Linked DNA regions of Homo sapiens: region 2 is linked to region 1. Evidence: fine-mapped expression QTL. Tissue or cell type: whole blood. Region 1 holds a variant in brackets; the other region holds the start of a gene. All regions are shown on one strand. Distances are from middle to middle.

Region 1 (4,337 bases):
GGTAACAACACAATTGAGTTTGATAACAGAATTAGTATAAATCAGACCAGTTCATAAATTCTATTTCCCTATGACACTGCCCAACATCAAACTTCACTTTATCTTCCCAAGATGTGTTCCTTCCTGACTTATCTGGGTCAAATGTATAAGATTCCTTCTCCTTGGAGCCTGGTGGGGATTTCACAGTAATCTTTGATCACTTTCTCTCTTCAGCCAATCCACAATCAGATCCTGTGAATCCTGCCTCTGCAATGGCTCCTCTGTCCCCTTGTTTTCTGTCCATTTCCACTGCTAACTCCTAGTCCAGATCTTCCTGTCAAAGCTCCTGCAGGGACCTCTGAAATGACTTTCATGTCTTCAGTTCTCTCCTTCCAACAAACTTACACAAAGAACCAGGTAAAATTTCCTAATGCTCAGCTCTGATCACATCACTATTATGTCTGGATCTCTCTTTATTGTTTACAGAATGAAACCCAAAGTCTTCAGCCTTTGCCCACTGCTTTTCCACTCAGCCTTCCACTCCCACTATGCCCTCTAGTCAAATTGGATTCACAACTTTCCAAACTAGTAAAGCCTTCTTAAATGAATGAGACACAGAAGTATGTGAGCCTTGGCCACCTTAAGACTTTCCATCTCCCTACAATACCCTGTCCTTCAGGTCTACATGTAAAGATCCAACCCATCCTTTAGGCAGAAAAGCTCCCCATTCTCAGGTCCCATAGTCCTCAGTTCATATCTCTTTCATGACATTTATCATTATTCTTTTTGGTTTGGTACTTATCGTGTGTGTGTGTGTGTGTGTGTGTGTGTGTGTGTGTGTGTGTGTTATACTCCTTTTCAGGATGGAGGCTTGTTCTTTTTAGATTTGCTACAACTCCTTGCACAAGGTCTAGCACCTCAGAGGGACTAACAGATGTCTGTGGAATAAATACATTGTTTTATTTATTGAATTGATTTCACCCAAAGCACACTTTCTACAAGTTATTTAACCCCAAAGCTTAGTTTGCTAATAGAGTTCTCTGACATTTAGGCAAATTTTATTGTATTATGGATAAAAACATTTTAATTATATATCAGCAAGTTATATATATATATGTGTGTGTGCATATATATATATATATATATATATATATATATATATGAGCTGTAGGTATTTATTTTTCTGTTGGTGACAATCTGACAGCCAACTTAGGGGCTGCCTGTGATAATAATACATGTCCTATTGGCCAAGAAGTGATTAAGATGGCTGTGGGGACAAGTTAGACCAGGGTCAGATAAATGTTTTTGGCTGCTAGGCTGTGTTTTCTAGAGAAGGAATTTGACAAGGGGGACAGAGTGCTTCCCAGCATAGGATGATGCTGGCAATCTGGGGCAGGTACCATATGTGTCTTCTGATATGTCCAGAGATAGCAGATGTTTCTTTGTACTGCACTTTCCTTATTTATACACATGAAAGAGTGTCCCCTGATTCTTAAATTAATGGGAGTCATGAATCCTTTCAGTACCTCAACCTCTGGCCAAAGGAGGAACTTTGTCTGCTCCCACCAAGAAGCAGGTGCCTCACCCTTTCCTGTTAACAGGTGACTACTGTGCCTGCACATAACCACCACTGCCCAATCTAGGAGGATGTCTCTCTCCCTTATTTGCTGATTGTGGCTGCCCAGCCCAAGGGGTTTCCTGCTAGGGTGATAACACATTGTTCTTGAACAGAGAGAAATAACTTAGAGGGATCATCTTGTCCTAAGATGTTGTGTTGCCTCTCAGAGTGGAAATCTACCTTGTAAATACTCTCTTTGTTCTCTGAACAGTCTGTTGTCTCTGTCCACACCACAACTATGAAGTTATTTATCAGGAACATCAGTGTTAATGGGGGTGAAATGGTGGGGAAGTGGTTACTCTGGTGGAGACTGAGAAAAAAACAGATGGAGCACTTTCCTTCTCTGGCAATTAGGCTTAAATGATTCTTGAGTGGATTCCCCAGTAGCATTGATTGTCACAATGCCCACGTTAACCACTCATGCTCCTGGCTCTCAATACAACACACTTCCCAGAAGGGAATCTTTCCTCCCCAGACTAATAAAATTGGCTACCACAGATTAAGTGTAAGAAACCACTAGGGGATTGTCTAAAAATGCAGTTTCCTGGACTCACCTCCAGAGAGTCCAAGTCTGTGGGTCTAGGATGATCCCTCTAAGTTATTTCTCTCTGTTCAAGAACAATGTGTTATCACCCTAGCAGGAAACCCCTTGGGCTGGGCAGCCACAATCAGCAAATAAGGGAGAGAGACATCCTCCTAGATTGGGCAGTGGTGGTTATGTGCAGGCACAGTAGTCACCTGTTAACAGGAAAGGGTGAGGCACCTGCTTCTTGGTGGGAGCAGACAAAGTTCCTCCTTTGGCCAGAGGTTGAGGTACTGAAAGGATTCATGACTCCCATTAATTAAGATTAAGTGAATGGTGGAGTGGAAAAATCCCACAAAAAAGACATGTGCCAGAGTTTCTGAAATTAGAGACAGCAGAGATCAAAGGGATTCTTTAAAGA[C/T]CTCTTTAAATCCTGTGGATTAAAAAAAAGAAGTAATTAGGCAGGCAAAACCATTATTGAAATCCCAAGATGTACAGTAAAATTTCAAAGCCCGGCTGGTTTGGTTGCTAGAGGAGTTGGAGGGTTGGGAGGCCCTAATACAAGACCACTTAGTCTATCCTTCACCCCTCACTAAATGTTTGGGTCTGGGGCACATCTAGGGAATCCTAGGGTTCTATGGAGTTCAGTTTTTGTTTTTAATCCTTTAATTGAATGATAAGGAAACTGAGGCCCAAAGAAGCTAGAAGCCTAATAGCCCAGTACAAGTTAATGACAGAGCAAGGTTAGAATTCAGGACTCTTGGCTGAGTGTTCTTTCTGCTCCTTGTAGAGGTTTGGCGCAGGCTAGGAAACAAAGTCAAAGGAGAAATAGAATAAAGTTCCAAAAAGTTACTAAGAAATAATTTAGGCATATGAATTATAGTAGAAGAAACTCCCAATAATAGTCATGAGCATGATATTTCTTCAAGTGTTCTCTGTAGACCTTCAGCATCAGAATCCCCCAGATTTCTGGGGACCGTTGTTAAAAGTGTGTATTTCTGGTCTTCATCCTAGACCCACAGACTTGGACTCTCTGGAGGTGAGTCCAGGAAACTGCATTTTTAGACACTCCCCTAGTGGTTTCTTACACTTGACAATGGCATGCTCTGTCCCCTCCAGCAGTGGCCTTCACACCAAAGCAGGATAGGATAGCACTTAACAGAATGTGTCAGCTGCATACCATCCCCTGTAACTGCTGTTACTTGGTTTTTGACTTTTAAAAATACCTTAGGTAAGGCCAAGTGTGATGGCTCACACCTGTAATCTCAGCACTCTGGGGAGCTGAAGCAGGAGGATTGTTGGAGCCCAGGAGTTTAAGACCAGCCTGGGCAACATAGCAAGACCTCCATCACTACAAAAAAATTAAAAAGAAAAAATAGCCAGGTACAGTGGTACGCACCTGTAGCCCCAGCTACTTGGGAGGCTAAGGTGGGAAGATCACTTGAGCCCAGTAGTTTGAGGCTATAGTGAGCTATGATTGCACCACTGCATGCCAGCCTGACTGACAGAGCAGGACCTTGTCTCAAAAATAAAATAATTAATTATTTTCAAAAAGCAGGATACAAAATAACAGCAAAGTAGAAGGGATAAGTTCTAGAGTTCTACAACACTGTAGGATGATTATAGTTAACAATAATATATAGTTTCAAATAGCTAGAAGGAGGATATTGATGTTCCCAACACAAAGAAATGATGTTTGGGATGATGGATATGCTAATTACCTTGATCTGATCACTTATACATGATATGTATCAAAATATTACCACGTGCCTTAAGAGTATGTACAATTATCACTTGTTAATTTTAAAAAATGAAATTAATTTTTAAAATTGTCTTGCCACAACTCAATGCAAGAATTGGTACCTCAGGAACGTATTAACTCATACCAGAGCAAACACAAACTAATTCCTGTAACAGAGCAGAATGTGGCAAGTGCTATAAGAAAGTGAAAATAAAATTCTATGGGAGCCCAAAGGTAGACAGATTGCCTCCCACTGAGGCAACTTCTGAAATAATTGATATTTGAGCTGGGCCTTGGAAAGGAGCCGCTATGTCCCCAGAGGGCAGGGAACTGGGGCAGAGTGCATTTTAGACAGAATGAGGAGGCAGAGCAGAACCAGTGAGGTAGCAAAGTTCTATTTGTCCAGAGTACGGGGTGGGCAAGCTGTGTGTGTTTGTGGAGGATTGAGGGGTGCTAAGATCTAAGTGCAAACCTGG
Region 2 (4,168 bases), 22 kb after region 1:
GGGCTCTACCATGAACTAAGCTGATAGGAGCCAAAGGAATTTCCTCAAGTCACTTGTATATGAAAAATGGGATCCTTAGTGGTCTTCACTTTTTCTATTTCAAATCCTAAAATACAGTTGAAACCGCCCATGCCAACAAAACTTTACGAAACATCCCACATGTTGAAGAGTGACTAAAAGAACCTGCTCCCAAGAAAAACAAACTTACTTCTTTCCTTATTCTTTTCTTTCACTTACCCCTTTCTCCTAACCCTAAACCCAAAAAACCACAAAGACTGACGCACTAACTGCTCAGAAAAAGTAGAACCTCTCACACTTCGGGGTGATTAAATTTTACCTCTGGCCCCGGAGGATTGGTAGAGAGATTCGACTTAATCACCAAGCCGGGGCTGCAAAAAAGCCAGCTTACCAGGGCACCTCACTCAAGTACATCTGGGAAGTAGGGGTCTTTAATTTACATTACAGATCGTCAGAAGCAAGGATAAGATAAATCAGATCATTTGGGGGCTGAAAAAAACGACGGTCGAATATTTAATCTGCGAAACTTGGCAGTGGATTTGAATAAACCCACAGTCGGGGAAGTTAGTTAAATTGGTTTGGGAAAGGGAACAGCAGAAATTCCGTAGTGGCAGCTGACGGCCACAAGACGCTATTTTACATGAGTAAAAATGCTTGCTATAAGGTGCCCGGTTGCAGGCGACCGAAGGCGCAGTGATGGAGAACTGACGCGGGTGACTTGTCTTCTTCAACATCACACACTTCTCCCGATGGCTGATGTAGTGCTCCCCTGGGAGCACCCTCTGCTAGTCCGGCCAGACGGTTCCTTAAGGTGTCAGGAGGGCCCGAACCTGAGTGCGGTCTCTCCGCATCTCCGCGCCCGGGGTTAACGATGGCTTGGGAGTGTGGGCATTGCTCCCGAGGCCAGGGGCAGGAGGACTGGTGGTTTAGAAGCAGAGGGGTTTGCGGGAGAGAAGAGAACAGAAAATCTCGCAGACGCGCGGTGGCCTCCCTTCCCGGCGCCTGTCCGCCGTTCCCGGCCGGAGGTCAGCAAGGCCAGTAGGATCCACCTTCCGCCTGCGCTGTGGCCGCGGAGCCCCAAGCGAGTCGTGCCAGCCCCGCGGCTGGCCAGCGAGGGGGCGAGCGGCGGACGCAGCGCGGCCCGAGCTTCCCGAGCCAGTCACTTTGGGCTGCGTCCCCCACGTCCATTCCTCCTCAGACGGGGCGAGTGGGCGCCGCCTGGCATTGAAGCTGCAGCGCGCTCACCTGTACTGGTCGAACTTGGCGTACATTGCCCACTCGGTGGGGTCGCTCTCGTAGGCTTCCATGATGGCCTGCACCTCCTCTACATTGACCTCATCGCCGGCAAAGAGCTGGTGCAGGATGCGGATCAGATCAGCCAGGGTCCGTGGCTTCAGCACTTCGGTCTGTTCCATCTCGTGGGGAGCTGGCTGCGCGCGCGTCTCACTGCTGGGCTGCGGTGGAGGAGCTGAGCGAGCCAAGGAGCTGGGGGCGAGGGAGCCTAACAGCCCGCTAGACCGCTAAGCAGACACACACGCACAAACCCAGCATTAGAGTGCCGAAACGTAAGGATGTCGTCGCAGAGACAGCAAGAGACCCACCCCCAGGCCCCTGGCAGCGCAGTGGATCCGGGATCGCTGGAGACGCGGTGCACACACAAATCAGGTTCAGATCTGTGGGGTTCATCCTCCCGGGCCCCTTTTAAGCGCTTGGAGTCACTAGGAATGTACCAACGGCCCTCGGAGGGAGGACGAGGCGGAGAGCCACCCAAGAAAGGTGGCGGAGGCGGGGAGACCCTGCGGGCACGGCTCACGCGCACATCCCCGGCTTCCCCGGGCTCCGCGCCTTCCCAAGAGCCCCGTTGTCTCCGGCGTCCCAGGGATCGCGTGGGCTCCGCGCAATCTCTCCCCCACTTTAACGGCGCGTTTTAGCCGCCCGGCCTAACGCCTCTCCCCGCTCCACCTCCGCCGCTGTGGTTCGCGACGCTGGGACGTAGACAAAAAGGGTCGGAGGAGATGGCTGCGGGGACTGACGCTGAGTAAAGGAGGAAAAGAAAAGGGAAGGAGAGGGACACTTCTTCCAAATAGAGAATTGTGAGGAGCCTGCGAAAATTGAGGATGGATTCCACTCCTAGGCCAGAGAGTGCCTGTTTTGTCGATTGAAACTATCCACGATATGCCCCAGGCTAGGTGAAAATAAGTCCAAGACTTTATATATATATATATTTAAGTATACACACACACATATTTTTTAAAATGCGTACTGAAATATATTTTGACAAAGGAGACTCGGGTCTCTAGTAAGACAATTAGTGAAATGATGGAAAACCAAGAACTCTTTGATTTTAAAATCAAATATTTTCTTTTAAAAAATATCCAGTGCAAATAACCTGATATTTCATTTGATGGTGTAAAAGGGGGCTTTTTCTGAGGGGATAGGGCGGGCTCTGACGCAATAATTTAAGAGGCTATAATTATATTTGAATCTTTCAACCTTAGGCATGTGCTTGAAGGAGCCTGCTAGTACATACATATAAGGAAACACGTTTCTACGTCATGCATAGCACCTAGTACGTTGGGAACAACACAAATCAAGTACAGTAGGATTTAAATGAGAAAGATGTGAAAGGTGGAAGAAATGCAAGTGTAGATTTCTTCCTTCTCATTATGGATGGACGCAGGGAATAATTTGGATTTAAGGTTATTAAAGTTCTAGACTTCTGAAGACCTGTTTTTTTCTAGACTATGATCACCCTCCCTCGTGTATATACATGTATACAATGAAATTTACTTGTGCCAGGTAGTCTTAAACATCTCTGGTAAAACTCGCTACATTATATTCTAACAGTGTTGTTAAAAGCGGAATCACCTATTGTTCAAAAATGGCTACAAGTAGAAAGCATTCCAGAAGCCAGCCTTGGTGATGTGTGTTGCTGCGGGGTAGTGAATTAACAAAGTATTTTGTGACAGAGTAACCTGTAAACTTTTCATGGTTTCCTCAAATTATTTTTTATTCTTGGCAATGTTTTCTATTGAGTCTCTTAATTACTTCATTTCAGCTAGTCTAATCCATAAATGTTTGGAATGAACAACAAAAATGAAATGCAAGCACAATTTATCTTTTCTGCATTTCAGTTGATAAAACTTCTAAATTTTTCTGACAATTCATTTTCTTTCTCTGACTCCTCTTTTTCTTTTTACATTTTTATGAAAGTAATATATTCACGTAGTTAAAAAAAATCAATAGTACTGGAAGGTCAATGAAAAGCAGCAGGCCCTTTTAACCATTCCTGACCATCTGTCCTGTGCTTAAAGAGTCAGTCTCTTAACTCTTCTAACTATTCCTTGTGGTAGTTACTTCCTTTTTCCAAAAATAGGCTTATATTTTTTTTTGTTTCAGCAATTTTAGATATTATCTAGTCATTTTACATTATGATAGCTCCATTCGTTTATTATTCATTCATTAATTTATTCAACAAATGTTTTTTCGGGTGAATAGAAATTTTCATTTCACCTGAGTAAATACCTAGGAGTGAGATTGCTGGGCCATTTAGTCAGTGCATGTTTAAATTTGCAAGAAATTGACATACTAATTTGCAAAGGGTCTGTGCCATTTCACATTCTCAACAGTGATGTATGAGTTCTAGTTGCCCCGCATCCTCGCCAGGTATTGTCAGTTTTACCAATTTTGGCCAAATAGAGGTGTGCTGATATTGCATTGTGTTCTTCATTTTCTATATCTCTAATTCTTATGGGCAGGTCTTTGTTCTTAGAGCTCCCAAGATGGTGGCCACCGCTCCCAGGATGGCAGCAAGCCTTTTGTTCTCTGAACTGGGGTTCTTGGCCTCATGGATTCCAAGGAATGGAACCTTGGACCATGCGGTGAGTGTTATAGCTCTATTAGAAGCCGTGGGTCACAGAAGAGAACCGTGGAACCCAGCTACTAGTGTTCAGCTCAAATAGGACGAACCCGGGCACTTAGCCATGCAGGAACAATGGCAAGCCTTTAGCCGGATCGGGAGTGGCAATGGGTGCCTCGCTGGATCAGCAAAGCAGCGGACACCCTGCCGGATCTGGAGGGGTGGAAGTCGGTGGCGGGTCTGTGACAGTGGCAAACAGCAGTGGTGAAAAGCGAGCGAAAGCTCAGCTCG

The links. PIP is the estimated chance that this variant, and not a neighbour inherited with it, causes the effect.
Region 2: CDO1 starts here. The variant in region 1 is fine-mapped to the expression of CDO1 in whole blood (INTERVAL, PIP above 0.99). The same link has a PIP of 0.9 or more in T cells and blood mononuclear cells.

Annotation. Positions count from the first base shown.
Region 1 is chr5:115,792,668-115,797,004 of GRCh38, forward strand. No RefSeq gene overlaps it. Among named protein-coding and RNA genes, the nearest start is that of CDO1, 22 kb to the right of the region's middle. The variant C/T (reference allele first, on the strand shown) is at 2,542.
Region 2 is chr5:115,814,965-115,819,132 of GRCh38, forward strand. CDO1 (cysteine dioxygenase type 1) reads right to left here and starts at 1,695. Exons shown (of 5, transcript NM_001801.3): 1 at 1,264-1,695. The coding sequence starts at 1,433. LOC124901049 (a long non-coding RNA gene) reads left to right here and starts at 2,124. Exons shown (of 2, transcript XR_007058908.1): 1 at 2,124-2,207.